Homo sapiens: one gene and its partners. The protein of the gene in region 1 binds, or shares a complex with, the protein of each later gene. Each region holds a gene or a part of one and is shown in the gene's direction. Other genes may lie near its edges. The genes, in order: GEMIN5, GEMIN2 and GEMIN4.

What was found.
Region 2: GEMIN5 (region 1) and GEMIN2 share a complex: the UniProt entries of both Homo sapiens proteins name them as parts of the SMN-Sm complex.
Region 3: GEMIN5 (region 1) and GEMIN4 share a complex: the UniProt entries of both Homo sapiens proteins name them as parts of the SMN-Sm complex.

The regions. Positions count from the first base shown.
Region 1 is NC_000005.10:154,886,911-154,893,318, reverse strand, and holds the end of GEMIN5 (gem-associated protein 5), read left to right. Parts: intron 1-769; coding exon 770-932; intron 933-1,576; coding exon 1,577-2,078; intron 2,079-3,901; coding exon 3,902-3,998; intron 3,999-4,941; coding exon 4,942-5,109; 3' UTR 5,110-5,908; downstream 5,909-6,408. UniProt on the Homo sapiens protein: The SMN complex catalyzes the assembly of small nuclear ribonucleoproteins (snRNPs), the building blocks of the spliceosome, and thereby plays an important role in the splicing of cellular pre-mRNAs.
Region 2 is NC_000014.9:39,110,488-39,117,428, forward strand, and holds the start of GEMIN2 (gem-associated protein 2), read left to right. Parts: upstream 1-3,835; 5' UTR 3,836-3,851; coding exon 3,852-3,988; exon of another isoform or gene 3,989-4,341; coding exon 4,342-4,426; intron 4,427-5,201; exon of another isoform or gene 5,202-5,378; intron 5,379-6,941. UniProt on the Homo sapiens protein: The SMN complex catalyzes the assembly of small nuclear ribonucleoproteins (snRNPs), the building blocks of the spliceosome, and thereby plays an important role in the splicing of cellular pre-mRNAs.
Region 3 is NC_000017.11:749,265-757,326, reverse strand, and holds the start of GEMIN4 (gem-associated protein 4), read left to right. Parts: upstream 1-5,062; 5' UTR 5,063-5,184; coding exon 5,185-5,194; exon of another isoform or gene 5,195-5,676; intron 5,677-7,078; exon of another isoform or gene 7,079-7,330; intron 7,331-7,417; exon of another isoform or gene 7,418-7,491; coding exon of another isoform or gene 7,492-7,513; intron 7,514-8,062. UniProt on the Homo sapiens protein: The SMN complex catalyzes the assembly of small nuclear ribonucleoproteins (snRNPs), the building blocks of the spliceosome, and thereby plays an important role in the splicing of cellular pre-mRNAs.

The DNA.
Region 1 (6,408 bases):
AGCTGGGATTACAGGCGTGCACCACCAAGCCCGGCTAATTTTTTTTTTTTTTTTTTTTTTTTTAGAGACGGGCTTTCACCTCGGGTGATCCGCCCGCCTCAGCCTCCCAAAGTGATGGGGTTATAGGTGTGAGCAACTGCACCCAGCCTTTATTTTGTTTTTAATTACAGCTTTTAGTTCCAGAAACTCACTTTTTGTTTTTGTTGTTTGTTTGTTTGTTTTGAGAGGGAGTCTCACTCTCATGCTCAGACTGGAGTGCAGTGGCGCAATCTCAGCTCACCACAACCTCCACCTTCCGGGTTCAAGCAATTCTTCTGTCTCAGCCTCCCGAGTAGCTGGGACTACAGGCACGCGCCATCATGCCTGGCTAATTTTTGTGTTTTTAGTAGAGGCGGGGTTTCACCATGTTGGCCAGGCTGGTCTTGAACTCCTGACCTTGTGATCTGCCCACCTTGGCCTCCCAAAGTGCTGGGATTACAGGCATGAGCCACCGCGCCTGGCCCACTTTTTGTTTTAATTAAATGCAAATGTAAAGGTGTTTTCTCAGTGTGAACAGACTTTAACACCGGGACGTGTGTGTGCTGCTGTGCAACTAGACATGAGAGTTTCCGATGTGGGAAGCAAAAATGGGTGGCGGAGACAAGAGGAACTTTCAAAGTGTGAATTGTGTGTACTTGTTTCCAAATGCGGTTCACAGGAACAGTTTGGTGGCATCCTCTGCGCCTACCGTGGGAGGATGTTTAACTCAGACTCTGGCTTCTCTCTCCAGCTCCTGCTTCACATTTGCCATGACTTGACCCTGGCAGTGCTGAGCCAACAGATGGCCTCCTGGGACGAGGCTGTGCAGGCGCTCCTTCGGGCGGTGGTCCGGAGCTATGACTCAGGGAGCTTCACCATCATGCAGGAAGTGTACTCAGCCTTTCTCCCTGACGGTAAGTGACTTCCTGCTGCCTGAGGCACACCCTTTAATGGACAACATCACCACCATTAGTGGTGTGGCACTGGGAGTACCTAGATTCTTAAAAGATGGAGATTGGCCAGCTGTGTCATTTTAGTAGAAAGTTTGGATTCTCTTACCGAAGCTTTTAAGAACAACTATACTGTTTCCTTTACCTGGCCCTACCCTCTTACAGCCTCCTGTCCACTTTCCACAAAGTTTAAGGGAGAGAGAAATAGGAATGTAGTTACATGTTAGTAAGAACAGAAAAGAACAGCAAAAAAGATAGACATTCCTTGGGCTGCATAGTCAGTCACTGAACTAAATCATTGTGATTTTTCAGAGAGACAGTGTGATCTGTTGTCGTGGCCCCAGAGCCTTCAGTAGTACAAATGGAATACTCTATCATGCTTTGAATGACTCCTAGGATGTAGTAATGAGAACACTGTCGCAAGCCAGGAAATGTTTAGCCTCCAGTTGGCTCTTGGTGGAAAGGCATGTGGCCCGGTGGATCACACTGTTGTCCTTTTTCCTGGGGTCTGCTTCTTGGTTGATAAGAAATAGAACATAAGGGCAGGAAGCCACATTTCTGGCAACTAGAGAAATGCATGACCCAGTATCTTTTTCCTCTTTTCCTAGGCTGTGACCACCTAAGAGACAAGTTGGGGGACCATCAATCCCCTGCCACACCAGCTTTCAAAAGTTTGGAGGCCTTTTTTCTTTATGGGCGTCTGTATGAATTCTGGTGGTCTCTCTCCAGACCTTGCCCAAATTCCAGTGTCTGGGTAAGGGCTGGTCACAGAACACTCTCTGTTGAGCCAAGCCAGCAGTTAGACACTGCCAGCACTGAAGAAACGGACCCTGAAACTTCTCAGCCAGAGCCAAACAGGCCTTCAGAACTAGACTTGAGACTCACAGAAGAAGGTGAGCGAATGCTGAGTACTTTTAAGGAGCTCTTTTCAGAAAAGCATGCCAGTCTCCAAAACTCACAGAGAACTGTTGCTGAAGTCCAAGAGACCTTGGCAGAAATGATCCGACAACACCAAAAGAGTCAACTCTGTAAATCCACAGCAAATGGTCCTGATAAGAATGAACCGGAAGTAGAAGCAGAGCAGCCCCTCTGCAGTTCTCAGAGCCAGTGGTAAGTACTGAGGCAAGTACAAGACGGAATGAAAAATGACCCTGCTGGCTAGGAACAGTGGTTCATGCCTATAATCCCAGCACTTTGGGAGGCTGAAGCAGGAGGATCACTTGGCCCAGGAGTTCACCACCAGCCCGGGCAAAAAAGCGAGACCCTGTCTCTACAAAAAAAAAAAAAAAAAAAAAGCCCGGGCACAGTGGATCACGCTTGTAATCCCAGCACTTTGGGAGGCCGAGGTGGGCAGATCACTTGAAGTAAGGAGTTTGAGACCAGCCTGGCCAACATGGTGAAACCCCGTCTCTACTAAAAATTAGCTGGGTATGGTGGCACATGCCTGTAATTCCAGCTACTTGGGGGGCTGAGGCCAGAGAATCGTTTGAACCTGGGCAGCAGAGGTTGCAGTGAGTCAAAATCGCACCAGTGCACTCCAGCCTGGGCAACAGAGGGAGACTTCATCTCAAAAAATACAAATAAAGTAACCAGGTGTGGTGGCATGTACCCTGTAGCTACTTAGGAGGCTGAGGCAGGAGGATCACTTGAGGCCAGGAGCTCAAGTTCAGCCTGGGCTACATATTGAGACCCTGTCTCTAGAAAAATTAATTTTTTTAAATTAGCCAGTAGTGGTGGCATGCACTTGTAGTCCCAGCTACTCAGGAGGCTGAGGTGGGAGGATCACTTAAGCCCAGGAGTTCGAGGCTGTAGTGAGATACGATCATGCCACTCATACCAGCCTGGTTGACAGACCCTGTCTCTACAAAAAAAAAAAAAAAAAATTAAATTTTAAGAAGCCAGGTGACAAAGGAATTTTATTTATAAAATGAGATAAAAGTAACCCAGGCAGGGGCATATGCTCTCAGGGCCTCCTGAGGGCTGTGTCATAGGCAAAAGTTTAAATTTTTAAAAAATATTAAAAATAAAAGGTAAAAGCTACCCAGGCATAACAAAAGATAATCCAATTCAAGGATGGGCAAAGGACTTGAATAGACATTTCTCTAAAAAGCCAGTAAGCACAGGAAATGATGCTCAACATCTCATCATTGGGGAAATGCAAATCAAAACTACAGTGAAGCAGCACTTCATAGCCATTAGGCTACTATCAGAGAAACAGAACAAGTGTTGAGGAGGATGCAGAGACATTGGAACCCTTGTGCCTATTGGTGGGAATGTAAAATGATGCAGCCACTGTGGAAAACAGTACAGCAGCACTTCCTCCAGAAATGTAAAATAGAATGACCATAGGATCCAGCACTTCCACATCTGGGTATACACCCAAAAGAATTGAAAGCAGGGTCTGAAATATGTGCACACCTGTGTTCATGGCAGCATTATTCATAATACCCAAAACACGGGAGCAACCTAAGTATCCACTGACAGATGAATGGATAAGCAAAATGTGCCATATCCATACAATGGAATGTCATTCAGCCTTACGAAGGGAGGACATCATGCTGAGTGAAATAAGCCAGTCACAAAAAGACATATACTATATGACTCCACTTATATGAACTACTCAAAATAGTTAAATTTATAGAGACAGAAAGTAGAATAATGTTGACAGGGGCTAAGGGAAGCAGAATGAGAAGTTAATGTTTAATGGGTATAAGATTTCAGTTTTACAAAATGACAAGAGTTTTTGGAAATGGGTGGTGGGGATGTTTTTCACCACATTATGAATTTATTTAAAATCACTGAACTATGTATTTTTAAATGGCTAAGATGGTAAGCTTTATGTTATATACATTTTACCACAGTAAAATAACAATGGGAGAAAAATGTTACCCAGGGCAAGACATACAATTTACACCTTTTATTTTTTTCACTAGTAAAGAAGAAAAAAATGAGCCACTTTCTCTGCCTGAGTTAACCAAAAGGCTTACCGAGGCAAATCAGAGAATGGCGAAATTTCCTGAGAGCATTAAGGTAAGAGTTAAAGCAGTTCATTTGGTAAAGCATCACTTTTTGTGTTATCACTTGACTATACCACATTCTTATAAAGGTCAGCTACCTCTCTGTTCAGTTTCTAAAATCTCTACCCATTCATATGTGCTTAAGAATTTAGAATCCAGGCTGGGCGTGGTGGCTCACGCCTGTAATCCCAGCGCTTTGGGAGGCTGAGGCTGGCGGATCATGAGGTCAGGAGATCAAGACCATCCTGGCTAACATGGTGAAACCCCGTCTCTACTAAAAATACAAAATATTAGCCGGGCGTGGGGGCAGGTGCCTGTAGTCCCAGTTACTCGGGAGGCTGAGGCAGGAGAATAGCATGGAGGCAGGAGAATGGCGTGAACTCAGGAGGCGGAGCTTGCAGTGAGCCAAGATCACGCCACTGCACTCCAGCCTGGGCAACAGAGCGAGACTCTGTCTCAAAAAAAAAACAAAACAAAAAAAAAGAATTTAGAATCCAATTACTTTGGTTAGCTAGAATGTTTTGTGAGACTAGAATTATCGATCACACAAGTAATTTTATACCTCAATCTTCAGAGAAACCAAATAGATTTAATAGGTAAGAAGTAAAATTTAAATTGGTGCCATGTATTAGATAGCTTACAGATGGACAGGTCTTTTTGGCTGTGGGCCCAAATATTAATAGAAGCACCATTTTTAAGGGTGGATTTGCATAGGGCTGTAGAAAGAGATTGTGCCATTGAGAAGGACATCGCAGTAGCCATCCTAGTTTTGAGTGTCATTTCTCCTTGGAGTAACTGTTGAAGAGAAAGACAGGACATTGCCTTAGGAGACAGCTGGCTCAGCTGTGTCCAAGAAGTGTCTATAGATGAACCTGAGTGACTGGTGCCTTCTGTGCAGGTGTTTGTGGCTCTTCTGCAAATGCTTCCTTATTCATCCTCATGTCATCGTCTTTCAGGCCTGGCCCTTCCCAGATGTGCTGGAGTGCTGCCTCGTCCTGCTTCTCATCAGGTCCCACTTTCCTGGCTGTCTGGCCCAGGAAATGCAGCAGCAGGCCCAAGAGCTCCTTCAGAAATACGGCAACACGAAAACTTACAGAAGACACTGCCAGACCTTCTGTATGTGAATTTTCACACACCTTGAAGAAACTGCCAAATTGAAAATGTTTGACATCTTTCACCTCTGCAGTTATGCCTCACCAGACATTCACTCTGGTCCCTAGATGTTTTTGCAGTAATCCAAAAGAATACAAACAAGGATTAAGTTTGAATCAACCCTGCCTACCCATAGACAACGGTGGATCTGACTTTAGACTCAATTGTGGTCTCCTACTGGAGGGAAGATCATGAAAAGCCCACAGTAGTTATTCAGAACTAACACCTGCAGAGTGTTGGTCATCTCTACAGCCTTAGGCAGGTTTCACCCAAAGAGGAGAAACTTCTGTCGTCACCCAAAGTGTTACATGCTTAAAACACAAGCTACCTTTGTAAATACTTCATCTGATCAGAAGTGTGTCATGCTTGTTTGAGATGGAGTTGCTGCATTTTAGGACTATTGATACCTTTTTTTAATTGTTTTTATAATATTTAATTTGAAAGAGGAGACCCTTCTCTCTCTACTCTTTCATAGACTGAAGTTTGAATATGAAATAGGCCTTAACCATCATGTTGACTCTCCTGTCAGAATTTTAGGTTGGAAATTTGGTTTTATTCTTTCATGTAATTGCTTATTTGAACAGATCACTTACTAAAGCTTTAGAAGAAGTGATTCAAATGTGTGTTTTCCCTTCAGTTTTATAACAAATGGATTGATGGCAGTCAAATAGCTCAGGAATAAATTACTGTTTCAATGGTTCTTAAACTTTCTTGGATCATAGGATCCTTTTGAGAATCAGATTAAAGCCAAAGATACTCTTTGGAGAAAAATGCATATTCCTAATTTTGCATAGATGACCTTTGGATTATTGGACTCTGACTATTGGGACCCTAAATACTATTTAATTATAAATCTTTTTTTTCTCCTCCTTGGTTATTTAAACAGTTGAACAGTGTCAGGAACAGATGTTTCTGTAATGTCACAGTTGCTAGCATGGGAAAATCAGAGTCTGGCATGGGTGTAGGAAGGAACACTCCTTTCAGATAATTGAACTGTTTTCTCTAGGATTCATTGTGAAGGCTTTTCTGCTCACGTTTGTAGTTTATTTTTCAATTAATTCCTAGGATTGGAGCTGTTGGGACAGTGAGAATGAAATTCATTTACAGGAAGTCCCAGGAAGGAGAAAGTTTGAGGCAGTTTTCAAAGACGTGTATGTGCCTAGCATTAGAGTTTAATAAACTCACAAAGGGAAATACTGTAGAATTTAGATCCTCACAGTTCTTCATACAGTGAAGTGAACTTTAGGAAGACGATGCTTTGTTACCAGGGA
Region 2 (6,941 bases), on another chromosome or scaffold:
GGAATGTGGCGAAACCCTGTGTCTCCTAAAAATACAAAAATTAGCCAGGTGTGGTGGCCTCAGAAGGCTGAGGCACAAGACTCGCTCAAACACAGGAGAGGCGGAGGTTGCTGTGAGCAAAGATCGCAACTACACTGCAGCCTGGGCAACAGGGCGACAGAGCAAGATTCTGTCTCAAAAAAAAAAAATCCCACCTAGAATGCCTTTTAAAATGTCAGTTTCTTAGCCCCACACCCCATCAACAGAAACAGAAGCTCTGGAAGAAATAGCTGTAAAATACAGGATTCCATATTTTAAATAATTTCTTCCAGTTTTTTTTTTTTTTTGGAGACTGAGTCTCACTCCATCGCCCAGGCTGGAGTACAGTGGTGCTATCTCGGCTCACTGCAACCTCTGCCTCCTGGGTTCAAGCAATTCTCCCACCTCAGCCTCCCAAGTAGCTGGGATTACAGGTGCACGCCACCATGCCCAGCTAATTTTTTGTATTTTTAGTAGAGACAGGGGTCTCACCATGATGGCCACGCTGATCTCAAACTCCTGATTTCAAGTGATCCACCTGCCTTGGCCTCCCAAAGTGCTGGGATTACAGGTGTGAGCCACCACGTCCAGCCGGATGACTCTTATACACACTAACATTTGAGAATAACTGAGCCACTTAAAGGGATAGAAAACACAGAGACATGGGAGGCTGAAGCAGCTAGATCATCTGAGGTCAGGAGTTTAAGACCAGCCTGGCCAACATGACAAAACCCGTCTCTACTAAAAATAAAAAAATTAGCCGGGCATGGTGGTGGGTGCCTATAATCCCAGCTCCTCAGGAGGCTGAGGCAGGAGAATCACTTGAACCCGGGAGGCACAGGTGGCAGTGAGCAGTACCACTGCACTCCAGCCTGGGTGACAGAGCGAGACTCCGTCTCAAAAAAAAAAAAAAAAAAAGGAAAATAATAAAAGAAAAGAAAACACAGAGACAGAGATAAACTGTAGTTGGCTGTGTAAGGTTGACTTAACAGATGCCTCCATCATCAATAAACAGCCACATCATCAATAAACACACAACAGAATGTTCTGTTCTCACAATCGTCATGTAACTCCTACAGCTAACCAATCGTGTGAGAAATACTGAAACAAGAATTTTTCCATCATAAACTAAAAACCGGCGATAAATCTCTAAAAACAGGGCACCAGAAGTAGTTCAGTACCTTAGGAATATTTCTTCCTGGGAATAGATGAAATGTTATTGTAGTTTCAGAAGTTCACCTTTCCAAATAGCGTTTTTTCAGAATAACTTCATCAACCAAATATAACTTATCTCATGTGTTCCATATTTCACTGAAGCATTAAAAAATACTTAGTGCAATTTCTGAAAACTTCACTCAAAAAATCATTACTAATTCTTTTAAATAAAATTAGATTTGAAGTAGCACGAAGCTATATTATTACCTCTTCTTTTGGAAAATAATTTATTATTATTTCCCAGGACAACCTTTGTTCCATTCTCCTATTGTCTCCTTTCTTCCTTAATCCATGCATAGTTCTGACACATACTTATGCACAAACTCCAATGTTAGCCATTGTTCCATTGGTAGTTGATTGGCAAGGTAACCTTTTCTCCAGAAAAAAATTGAAAGAAAATGCTAATAATTTACAGTAAAAAATAAAAATTAAAAAAAATGTATTTGTGGCCTGGCCCAGTGGCTCACACCTGTAATCCCAGCACTTTGGTAGGCCAAGGTGAGTGGATCACTTGAGCCCGGGAGGTCAAGGCTGGGTAATATTTTATTTTATTTTATTTTATTTTATTTTTTTGAGATGGAGTTTTGCTCTTGTTGCCCAGGCTGGAGTGCAATGGCACAATCTGGGCTCCCTGCCACCTCCGCCTCCTGGATTCAAGCGATTCTCCTGCCTCAGGCTCCCAAGTAGCTGGGATTACAGGCGCCCACCACCATGCCCAGGTAGTATTTTGTATTTTTACCAAAGACGGGGTTTCACCATGTTGGCCAGGCTGGTCTCGAACTCCTGACCTCAAGTGATGTGCCCAGCTCGGCCTCCCAAAGTGGTGGGATTACAGGCATGAGCCACTGCGCCTGGCCAAGATTCTTTACGGATGCAAAATTTCCTCCACAAAGAACAGCTTTGCAGGGCCATTTCAAAATACGGCAAAGAAACATGTTTTGGGGTCAAATATTTTTATTTTCTTCTTTGTCTCGTAATGTCATTTCGAAGTGAGGTTGAAAAGTAAATCGTGATATATAGGGTTAAATAAAACCCATCTGATGAGAATTTATGATTTGTAGGGCATGACTCCCCAGACCCCTTAGATAGGAATTTGGGCAAAATAAAAAAATCAGGCCGGGCGCGGTGGCTCATGCCTGTAATCCCAGCACTTTGGGAGGCCGAGGCGGGTGGATCACGAGGTCAGGAGATCGACATCATCCTGGCTAACAAGGTGAAACCCCGTCTCTACTAAAAATACAATAAATTAGCCGGGCGTGGTGGCGAGTGCCTGTAGTCCCGGCGGCTACTCGGGAGCCTGAGGCAGGAGAATGGCGTGAACCCGGGAGGCGGAGCTTGCAGTGAGCCGAGATTGCGCCACTGCACTCCAGACTGGGCGACAGAGCGAGACTCCGTCTCAAAAAAAAAAAAAAAAAAATTCAGTTTAGTCCTCACGTCACTACTTACTTTTTCAAATTTGTCCTTGATTATCACCAAAATGTTGGACGACAGGAGTATTTCTCCCTATTCTAAGTCTGTTTTTCCCAAAACCAGTGAAAATTTGTTAACCAAATAACTGTAGTTTGCAGCCAGGTGATATCTTTCCAAGTGTCCCAATTGTTTAGTTACAGTTCCTAAGCATTAAGTACTTAAATAAGCTAAGGACTATCCTCACTTTATCTTCAATTTAGACTTACATCCTGGTTTGAAATCAATTCCTTGCAAACTAAAGGCAGTGCCATAAATAAAAATTTTTAACCTTCTAAAATAAACATCAGTGTTAGAAAATAAGTCAATTGTATTCACTCAATTGTATTTGTTTAGAAATAATCAGATATTATACTTGTTTCTTGCACATTCTTGCCTTGTTTCCTCACCTATGAAATGGAGATAATAATACTATCTACCTAACAAGATTGACCTAACATTTTTGTTAATTTCTGGGTGTTAGCATTAGTTTCATTTTTTTCACTATTTGTATTTAAACGAAGAGATTTTTCTTTAAAACAAAAATTAAAAAGTGCTGGCTATTCTAGGAGTAATATTCATTCCAAATAAACATACAGTGATCTTTGAAGTGGTCAAGCACTAGAAATTTCTGTAGAAAATTAATTTTTCATTCATTTGGCATCGCATAAATCTAGGTTGGAATTGGTTCTTCCTCTTTGGAAGGTCAGTCCCTGCCCTAAGAGAGCGGTATATTACCACCCACTTCACAAGACTGTTCTAAGAATCAAATGAGAAAATGTGTTTATGAAGAGTTTAAGAATTTAGAGCTCCATGAATGATAATTACAGTAATATTGTTCATTAATTCAAAAAACATTTTTAAGGATCCCTCACTACTAGGGATGCATAAAAGTTGCTAACCCTCGGCCTTTACCCAGCGTTAGAAGACAAAACAGAGGGTAAAAGTCCCAGAAACGCGTTCGAACCAATTCAGCTAGGAATTAAATTCTCAGATCCTTTATTACACCACCGGAGCCTTAACCTTGAGGCAAGCAGCAATTTGTTCATGCGCAGTTAACGCTCCCTAAACTGCCACTTGCTCAGCTCCGCGCCTAAGGTGTCTATTAGTACGCCTGCGCTGTGACCTAGAATGGGCGCATGCGCCGAGCGGAACTGGCTGGTTTGAAAACCATGGCGTGGGTACCAGCGGAGTCCGCAGTGGAAGAGTTGATGCCTCGGCTATTGCCGGTAGAGCCTTGCGACTTGACGGAAGGTTTCGATCCCTCGGTACCCCCGAGGACGCCTCAGGAATACCTGAGGCGGGTCCAGTGAGTGATTCGGCCCTGGGCGGGTGGGCTGGTCTTCTGCCCTGCCCCTGGGTACAGCCCTCGGTGCTCTATTCCCGTTCCAGTCTGTTGCGAGTTCAGGTCTATTCAGGATTCTGGATTACATCCTAACGTGGGCGAGTTTCTGTTGAACGTGATTGCACGTATCAAGATGTGTGCTCTTAGATTTGTTTTCAATCCAGATAATTTCAGAAATACATTGTTTAGTACCTCAATTGGAAGTCTGAATTTTTTTCTGATTTCACAATGAACTGTGGAAGTGGATCGCTTGTTTTACTACACCTGAGCAAAGCACAACAGAAATTTAATTTATCGCGTTTATTACTTATTTGTAGGATCGAAGCAGCTCAATGTCCAGATGTTGTGGTAGCTCAAATTGACCCAAAGAAGTTGAAAAGGAAGCAAAGTGTGAATATTTCTGTGAGTTTTATTAACCGTCTGGAGATTACCCCCAACCCCCCAATTAAAAGACTAACGCTCTTCCTATAGTATCTGACAGCATCAATTATGACGTAAGATTTGACTACTCCGTGCAAAGTTAGACATTCGCTTGTACTTTTTCCTTCAGAAAGACAATTGGCATTTACTGCCTCTAAAGAGGCTTTCTGTAACTCTAGCCTTTGTGGAGTGTTGCCCATCTTACTTCAGGACATTATCCAGTCCTTTCAAAGGAGTCTTTAAATGGGTTACTTATGTTATCTTTTATTTTTTGCTTGTTTGTTTGTTTATAGAGAGGGAGTCTCTGTTGCCAGCTGGTCTGGAACTCCTGGCCTCAAGTGATCCTCCCTCCTCTGCCACCCAAAGCGTTGGGATCACAGGCGTGAGCCACCTCACCTGGCCCCTTTATTTTTTAAGGAACTTTTTCCAGTTATTGGATTGGTGTTTAATCTTAGTGTGCTTTGCATGTTCTGAATTTGACCAAGTTTCACTTTTTTTAAGAATAGAAACCCAGATGTCTTACACTTTTTTTTTTTTTTTTTTTGAGACAGTTTCACTCTTGTTGCCCAGGCTGCAGTGCAGTGGTGCGATCTCAGCTCACTGCAACCTCTGCCTTCCGGTTTCAAGCGATTACCGTGCCTCAGCCTCCCGAGTAGCTGGGATTACAGGCGCCCACCACCACACCCGGCTAATTTTTGTATTTTTAGTAGAGACGGGGTTTCACCATGTTGTCCAGTCTGGTCTTGAACTCCTGACCTCGTGATGCGCCCACCTCTGCCTCCCAAACTGCTGGGATTACAGGTGTGAGCCACCATACCCGGCCTTACACTTTTATAGCTACTTGCACACTCTGGACATTTTCATTTATTTATTTATCCAGCACATCTTTAATTAAGCAACTAGGTTGTGCCGGGCATTGGGAATTCAACAGAGGGTAAGACAAAAAAGGTTCCTACCCTTGTAGAGTTTACATACCCTCCTGAGGAAGACAGAGAGTAAACAAGCAAACAAATAATTACATATTGTGATTATTGCTATGAAGAAAATAAGCATGTATAATAATCAATAAATGACAGAACTACTGTAGAGGAATCATAGAAGGGCTCTCTTTTTCCCCCTTTTTTTTTTGCGTCTCAATTTTTCGCCCAGGCTGGAGTGCAGTGGCACAATCTCAGCTCATCACAACCTCTGCCTCTCAGGTTCAAGAGCTTCTCTTGCCTCAGCCCCCTGAGTAGCTAGGATTACAGGCGTGTGCCACCACACCTGACTAATTTTTGTATTTTTAGTAGAGACGTGGTTTTACCATGTTGGCCAGGCTGGTCTCAAACTCCTGACCTGAAGTGATCTGCCTGCCTCTGCCTCCTAAAGTGCTGGGATTACAGATGTGAGCCACCACGCCTGGCCAGCAAAGGTCTCTCTAAGGAGGTGCTATTTAACCTAAGCTCAAAGGAGGGTGGCATTTTATTTTATTTCTTTTTCTTTTTTTTTTTTTTTTGAGATGGAGTCTCAGAGTCTCGCTCTGTCGCCCAGGCTGGAGTGCAGTGGCGCGATCTCGGCTCACTGCAACCTCTGCCTCCCGGGTTCACACCATTCTCCTGCCTCAGCCTCCCGAGTAGCTGGGACTACAGGCGCCTGGGAGAGTGGCATTTTAAATAGTTGATAGTAATTTCCTTTTCATGCTCAAAGTAGTTTCTCTGATACTTGTAATCAGGAAATTTTAATTCAGACACTGTAATTTTTCCTATAATTCCTCTTCAGGGTTTTTTAGTTGATGGACATTTAATGGAACAGAATGTCTTAATATACCTAATTTGATGGATTGATTGATTGATTGATTGAGACAGGGTCTCGCTTTGTTGCACAGGCCAGAGTACAGTGCCACGATCATAGCTCACTGCAGCCTCGAGTTCTTGGGCTCAAGCCATCCTCCCACCTCAGTCTCCCCAGTAGCTGAGATGACAAGCATGTGCCACCGTGCCCAGCTAATTGTATTTTTTGTAGCGACGGGGTCTTGATATGTTGCTCAGGCTGTATGTGCTCTTTTAGAAAACAGAAGTATGGCTGGGCTTAGTGGCTCACACCTGTAATCCCAGCACTTTGGGAGGCCAAGTCAGGCGGATCACCTGAGGTGGGGAGTTCAAGACCAGCCCGACCAACATGGAGAAACCCCATCTCTACTAAAAATACAAAATTAGCCGGGTGTGGTGGCACATGCCTGTAATCCCAGCTACTCGGGAGGCTGAGGCAGGAGAATTGCTTGAACCCGGGAGACGGAGATTGCAGTGAGCTGAGATGGCCATTGCACTCCAGCCTGAGCAACAGGAGCGAAACTCCGTCTCAAAAAAAAAAAAAAAGAAAACAGAAGTAGACAATTTAAAGTTAAGCGTCTTTAAGTACATTTTGCCCATACCAAAGTTCTTATTTTTAATTTTATTGATACATAATAATCATAATTTCATGCTTTATCACGCAGGCACAATAATAATTGTACATATTT
Region 3 (8,062 bases), on another chromosome or scaffold:
CGCAGGGTGGAGTGCAGTGGGGCACCATCGTGGCTTTCTGCAGCCTTGACCTCTGGGGCTCAAGAGATCCTCCCACCTCAGCCTCCCGAATGGCTGGGCCCACAGCCACGTGCCACCACACCCAGCCAACGTTTTGATCTTTTGTAGCGACCGTCTCACTGCGTTGTTCAGGCTGCAAGCTGTTGTTTCAAACAGATGAAGTTGGAAAGTTCTTCAGCTTCTCCAGAGTTGTTTTTTTGAATCAAGGGGTTGTGGAGCCTACATGTAAATACAAGTGTGCCTTGAGTTAAATCTCCGGGAAGACTTAGAACGGCCGTGTTGCCAGAGCTCTCCTAGTTAGCCTGCAGGACTGTCTGAAGTCCGTGTCCGTCTGACATGTTACCGGAATTAACAAACCTAGGGACGGTGAGTGCTCCTTCATGTGGCTTTCTGGCTCTCTCACCTGCCACTCAGTGCCGCTGTGACTTAGCAGCCAGAGTTTTCAGGAGACCTCCAACGTGTCCGTTGAAATTCAGGGTAAGAGTTGAGAAGTTTCCCTGTTTGTTCTAAGAGTTCTTACCCCAACCTCAGGGGAAATCAATAGTAAATTTACTCTGACTTCAATGATAATAAAGAAGTGCCCTTGCCTCATCCTCTTTATATAAAGCAATAGAGCCACATGGTTCAAAAATGAAAACAATATGAAAAGGTATTGTAAACCGGGTAAGTGTCTGAGACAAGTCTCGCCCATTTAGAGGTTTATTTTGCCAAGGCTGAGGATGTGCCTGAGACACAACCACAGATCTGTGGCCCCCGCACACTTTCCAGAGAGGATTTTTAGGGCCTCAGTATGTGGGATATGACGACGTTTCTCTTCAAATAATCTGATCAATCTTTTATTCTTTAATTCATAGCGCCCCGCCCCCTTTTTCTCCTTTTCCCTTTTTGCCTTTGTGAGATGCCCAGGCACGCCACAGCACCAGGCGTTATCAGTACCAGCTCACATTCCTTTCCTTATTTGGAAAGAGGACTAACTTTCTAGCTCATTACAGACACCCCTTCCCCTTCCTCTCCGCTTTCTTTTACGGGCCCACCCTATCTAAAAAAATCAAATGTTTAGCCAAGCGCGATTAGTTTAGATTGTACGACCTGACCCCGGCCAATGGGGAAAGGGTAGAGGGGCAGGACTTGTGTCAGGAACAAAGGCTCTCGTGCCCCTTTGTTCAGGTGTGCTCTCATGACAACTGGCCAAGGAGGCACCCCTCTGCACAGAAGTAAAATTGCTTTGCTAAGAATCCTTTGTTCGAGTGTTCTATTTCCTTAGGATTTTGAGCATTATTCCTAACAAGTATTTAAAAGGGAAAGAGCAGGAAGGGAGGGAAGAGGGAAAGGAAAAATACAGGAGGGTAGGTAGGGAGATAAGTGGTTACATTCTTATTAGGCTTTGATCAGCGCTCACCAAATCTACATGTCACAGTGAAAGGAGGGGGTAGAGGAACAGTCAGTTTTGCATTCAGCTCAGTAAATCTACATTTAGCACTCACCAAATCTACATGTTACAGTGAAAGGAGCAGGCAGAGGAACAGTCAGTTTTGCATTCAGCTCAGTAAATCTACATTTAGTGCTCACCAAATCTACATGTTACAGTGAAAGGAGCGGGCAGAGGAACAGTTACGCATTCAGCTCAGTAAGTCTACATTTAGCACTCACCAAATCTACATGTTACAGTGAAAGGAGCAGGCAGAGGAACAGTCAGTTTTGCATTCAGCTCAGTAAATCTACATTTAGCGCTCACCAACTCTACATGTTACAGTGAAAGGAGCGGGCAGAGGAACACTCAGTTATGCATTCAGCTCAGTAAATCTACATTTAGTGCTCACCAAATCTACATGTTACAGTGAAAGGAGCGGGCAGACGAACAGTCAGTTATGCATTCAGCTCAGTAAATCTACATTTAGCGCTCACCAAATCTACATGTTACAGTGAAAGGAGCGGGCAGAGGAACAGTTATGCATTCAGCTCAGTAAATCTACATTTACTGCTCACCAAATCTATATGTTACAGTGAAAGCAGCAGGCAGAGGAACAGTTATGCATTCAGCTCAGTACATCTATGTTTTGTCTCGGCTGGTGAGGGATGGTTTCTGGTGTTGTCTTTGTCCCTTACCTATGAAGATAAGCTGTTAATTTATATTGTCAGGTGAGGGAGACCACCTGGGGAGATATGTGGCCTTCTGTCTTGTAGCTTATCTGTTTAGGAACAAAAGGAAGTTTTTTGCATATTCCATGACTCAATTTCCAAGCTTAACTTTTCCTTTTCGCTTAGTGAATTTGGTCCCAAGATTTTATTTTCCTTTCACAGTATACCCCATGCCCATCAATCCCATTCCCCCTGCATCCTATAGGTAACCTCTTCTTAAGCAAATACAAATAGATAAATCCTTATTTTCTGTTTTTTTTTTTAAAACTTTATTTTACTGTTACTTTCTGCTGTCCTAATTATGGCACATTTTTACTTTCTAGGTTCTGTGATTTACAGAGTGGTCTGGCTATGTGGACAGCTTCTAAATTGTCACCACATTTTGGAGCAAGATGTATTATTTTTACAATTAATTTACATTTAACATGAATCATGATCCTAAGTGCATCAGAATGTCTTCATAACATTCGCCAAAGAAGAGAGGGCAGCACTGCTGTTCTACAGTGTGGCTCTCACCTGGTCCACAGTTACCAGAAATAGTTCTTTCGTTGCTGTGATGTCCTGGGTGGGCTTCATTCTTTAGTAATGTACTTTGTCTACAGCAACTTCCTGCAACTATGTGAACAGATCTTGAAGACACACAGTGAGGTTTGGTTTCCTTTGTCCTCTTAAGTCTTTATGGTTGTTGCTTCTATTGTTTATTGGTCCCAGTGAGAACTGCAGCTGACCTGATGTCATGATCTGTGAAGATAGTTTCTATTAAAGAAGAAGTACCAGGAAATCCCATATGCCACCGTAGACCTGCCTTTCTGGATACCATTTACTACTCCATACTCCAGCCGCCATGCACAATGGTTGTGTATGAGGCTCCTGTGATCATTAACAGGAGTAGAAGCTGGGCTCAGACACTCTGGCACTTGCATAGGTCAAGGGGTGTGTTGTGCTCTTGCAACAAATCCCACATAGACATCCATATGCATATTGTCCCACCGTCCCCTAAGCAGAAACCAGGGTTAAGTACAGAATAGTCCCGGGAACATTTTGGTTGCCCGGCCTTAGGTGAGCCTTTCTGGGGCTGGGATTTTGACACCATCTGCTCCATTGTTTCTAAACTGCTGTGTTCTGGCGCATCAATTGTTTCATCACATTATCATCACGGAAAGCTTGGTCTCCCTCAAAACATGAACCGGGTAGGCCCTGTGTTCCAGTGGGGGCTTTTGGACTTGACTTTAGTGTTTAGGAGGACAGAGTCCCTCTCCCCTCTGTGGTGCTGGGGTATTAGTAAATCAGCCTTGAAGAGATAAGGGGCTGGGGCCTCAACCTCCCAAGAGGCTGTCACTGGAGAATGGTCTCCTGCCCTCAGATCTTGGGCATTTCCACAGCACACTGTCCCCCTCGTCCTTCCAAATACCTACATACGCTCTTGTAATAGGAGAGCTGGGAACTCCACCCAAAACCATACAAAAAGTTAGTCTGTGTATTTGGACGCCTCCCCAGCACTCAGTCACCGAGTTTCTCCTTTCCAACAGCAGTCACTCTCATGCAGTTTAAGTGATTTATTGATGTCTCGGCTAAGCTTGCGACAGTTTCAGGACATTTCAGCCATCAAGGTCTAAGAAGCCCTTTCCATTCCCGAGGAGCCCTCAGCCAGCCTCCTTCTTCCTCATCTCCTCACTCTGGCCGCGTAGCCCCTCATGGCGTCCATCTTGGACGCCCCTTTGTTCGCGCTCCACGCCCCCCACTTCCTTCTTCGTCAGCTCCTCCACTTTGGCCGCGTAGCCCCTCATGGCGTCCATCTTGGACGCCCCTTTGTTCGCGCTCCACGCCCCCCACTTCCTTCTTCGTCAGCTCCTCCACTTTGGCCGCGTAGCCCCTCATGGCGTCCATCTTGGACGCCCCTTTGTTCGCGCTCCACGCCCCCCACTTCCTTCTTCGTCAGCTCCTCCACTTTGGCCGCGTAGCCCCTCATGGCGTCCATCTTGCACGCCCCTTTGTTCGCGCTCCACGCCCCCCACTTCCTTCTTCGTCAGCTCCTCCACTTTGGCCGCGTAGCCCCTCATGGCGTCCATCTTGGACGCCCCTTTTTTCGCGCTCCAAGCCTCCCACTTGGCCCTGGCTCTCACGTCTGAGGCCGGAGGGCCGGGGATGTCGCAGTCGCCCTGGGTGGCCTGTTTGTACAAGCCGTAGACCAGCAGCTTCTCCTGATCGCTCACGGGACCCTTCAGCTGCTTGAGGGCCGCGCAGCTCGAACTCCACTTGGCACATGGGGTGGTGGAGGCGGTCCCTGGTGCTAGAAGCTGGAGGTGGAGAGTTGGAGTGGCTGTTACTACTCGATCTCAGGGGGAGGAGACAGGCACGCGATGTTTGTGTTTTGTCAAGCACAGATTGCAAGCTCGGGGTCCAGCGTAAACCCCACCATGTTTGGGCTCACACGGCGCATTTTCTGGGGAGGACCAGCCGTCAAAAAGCGTCTAGGATCCGGAACGCTGCTGTCTGGAGGGGGCGGCGCGGCAGGAGCGCGTTGAGGGACTGTATGTGGCGCGAGCTGGGCGGGTGGGAGTGGAAGCCTCGCGTGGTGCGGCCGCGCTGGGTGGTGGGCGTCCCGGGGGAGGCGCTCGGTGGGGGTGAACTGTGTGCGGGGCACGCCCGGGGTTACCGGGTGAGGGTGAATGCGGGGCCGGGGAATCATGAGCCCGACCCGCTGGGACCCCGGAAGAGGGGCCGGGCAGGGGACGGTGCGGAGGGGTCTAGTGAGCGACGTCCGGGTACCTGAGGGCTGGTGGGAGGGCTCTGCCGGAAGGCGGCGCTGTGCGCTTGGCGCGCTCGTTCGTGAGGACTGCGCGTGCGCGGCGGAGGCTGTGGGCGGGGCCGGGCGGAGGTTGTGAGCAGGCCTAAGCGCGGCCGCCGTGGCTCCTGCGTCTCCCATCGTGCCGTGCGTCCCGCGCCGCGTTCGAGTTCTCGGAGGGGAGGGGGCGTTAGCCCCGCGCAGCCGCCGGCGTCGCCGCCATGGACCTAGGTGGGTGCCGCGGCTCCCCGGCCCCGGGCTGCGTCCAGCAATGCGCCACCAGAGCGGTGCTGCCCCGTCGCGTCTCCTCCTGTCGCGCACGCTCGCGCGGGCCCGGACCGAAACGTCCCCCGCGTCGGGGCGGGTCTAGGGGTCCCGGGGTGGCCTTGGCGGGGGGTGGTCCGGGTCCCGCCGCGCGTTGGGCCGCGTCTTGCCGCCTCCGGCCCCCTGCGCTTGAAAACACGGAGCAGACGTGAAGTTAGAGCCCTTGGAAGCGCCCGGGGCTCGCGCACGTGCTTTGGGAAACGGGCTCCCTCCGAGCACCCCTGGGCGCCCCGACGGCCTCATTTCCTGAACGGCAGCTGCGTTCTTGAGCAAGTGTCTTAACGCTCCAAGTGTCTTACGCTCATGACGTTTCCTCATCGACAGAGCGGGGAGAATGGAAGTGTGTCTCCCCACTGAGTTTTGGGCGACTTTGCATTGAGATCGCCGAGGTACAGTGTCCCTTGTGGGGTTGCGCGGGTCACACCCGCGGTGGGGGCGGCTGCGCTCCTGAGGTATCACTTTGTGAACCTGCGTGCGTCCGGATTCAGAATCTTACAGGCAAGGTCTGGGAGGGAGCCCATAGGAACTAGATGCTCCCTGCTAAATCTTGGCACACGCTGCTAAGACCAGGAGGCTGTTCTGGGAGAGCTGGGGGTGAGGCACCCCGAGATGTGTCAGCAGTAGTAGGCTGGGGGGAAATGGTCTGGTCCCCGCCCCCAGACAGCTTTTCAGGAGCGGAATGGCAGAGCTCTAAGGGCTTGGAGCCCCTCAGCCGTAATTGCTTCCCAGCCCCACCACATTCAGGCTGGGACACCCTCAGCAAATCGTTTCTGCGCCTCAGTGTCCTTATCTCTAGAGCAGGAATACTAGTCCTCAAAAGGTGATTGTGAATAGAAGAGATCTTACCTGTGTACCACCTAGCACAGTGTCTGGCATGGAGTAGGTGCTTAATAAACCTAAGAAGCGGGCTGTGGCAAGCACTAGTTAACCATCCATGATAGAGTACCGGAGTATTTTCCAGCTAGTAACCGCCCTGGGACTTACTACTTCAAACTGTGCGTACTTAATGCGCCTGGAAGGCAGGTGTTTAGGGCCAAACATCTGCTCAACTAAGCCAATAATGCAATAAAATTAAATTTACAGCGTCAGGAGGGACTATATTTTGGGACCCTGGGAGAGCCTCCTGAGCCAGAAAGAAGGGCGGTAACCCCCAGGGAGGTCCCCTTCGCAGCGTAACCCTCCCTGGGAGTCGGTCTCAGCCACTGTGAGATGAGATGGATTGCCTCCACAAGTGGGTTACATAGTGCTGAGCCCTTGGCCTGCTGCCGCTCCCATAAATGGTGGGAGGGGTAAGATGGTCCTTAGTCTCCTGGAGTCAGTGTTTTCTCTGCTGGTGTCTGGCCTGTGAAAATGGGGAATATGAGCTCTTGGGGGCATGACAGACTGAGGAAGGAGTAGCATCTCTCACTCCTGGGAAAGGGGAGATGACTCAGGAATGAGGAATAGGGAGCAGTGTTTGCACCCTCGTTTTAGTTTCTGGGCCAAAGGAAACATACCTGATAAAGACCTACATCCTTTGATGTTTCTGAGCTGGGGGAGGCAAAGAATAGTGACAAGATTCTGGTCTTGCCAACCATGAAAAGGTTTGGGGAAACCAACATTTACTGAGCACCTAATTAGACTCTGTAACTGGATTCTTACTGTAGCTCTATCTCATTTATCCATCATAGCGTCCCGGGGAGATGGGGTCAGGAGATAGCAGTGCCAACCCACTAGCAAGGGCTTGACTGGTATATATCACATGATCCCCAAAGGCATAACATGAAGTCTGTATTATCCCCACATATGCAGAAGGAAGGCTTGGAGAAGCAATCTGACCAAGATCACATCCCTTTTTTTTTTTCGGAGATGGAGGGGGAGTCTCACTGTGTTACCCCAGCTAGTCTTGAACTCCTGGCCTCAGGGATCCACCTGCCTCAGCCCCCCAAGTAGCTGGGATTACAAGTGCTAGCCACTGAACCTGGCCAGAATCACATCATTTTTAAATGGCTGAACTAGGATTTAAACCCATGTCTGATTAAACATCCCAAGATGTTTTCCATGGTAAGTCTGTGTCAATCGTTAGTTCCCTGAAGGAAGGCTTAATCTAGCACAGTATTTTCTGTATCTACTCCCTGGTTTCTCCCACAGAGCTAGGGCCATGAGTACCTTGTTTTTGACTGGAAGGAGCTGTGGGGTGGACCGTTTCCCTGAAAGCTAGAAGAATGTTTGAAGCCTGTTCCCAAGGCAAGTTTATAAAGAGTGAAGGCAGGGCTTGTCTGATTCCTTCTGTGCCCATTGCTCTGTGGCTATGTGATTGCTCTGTGCCCATTACCCTGTGGCTGTGTGACTGCTGCTGTGCCCGTTACCCTGTGGCTGCGTGATTGCTGCTGTGCCCATTACCCTGTGGCTGTGTGATTGCTCTGTGCCCATTATCCTGTGGCCGTGTGATCGCTCTGTGCCCATTACCCTGTAGCCGTGTGATTGCTGCTGTGCCCATTACCTTGTGGCTGTGTGATTGCTGCTGTGCCCATTATCCTGTGGCTGTGTGATTGCTCTGTGCCCATTATCCTGTGGCTGTGTGATTGCTCTGTGCCCATTATCCTGTAGCCGTGTGATTGCTTCTGTGCCCATTACCCTGTGGCTGTGTGATTGCTGCTGTGCCCATTATCCTGTGGCCGTGTGATTGCTGCTGTGCCCATTACCCTGTGGCCGTGTGATTGCTCTGTGCCCATTACCCTGTGGCCGTGTGACTGCTGCTGTGCCCATTACCCTGTGGCCGTGTGATTGCTGCTG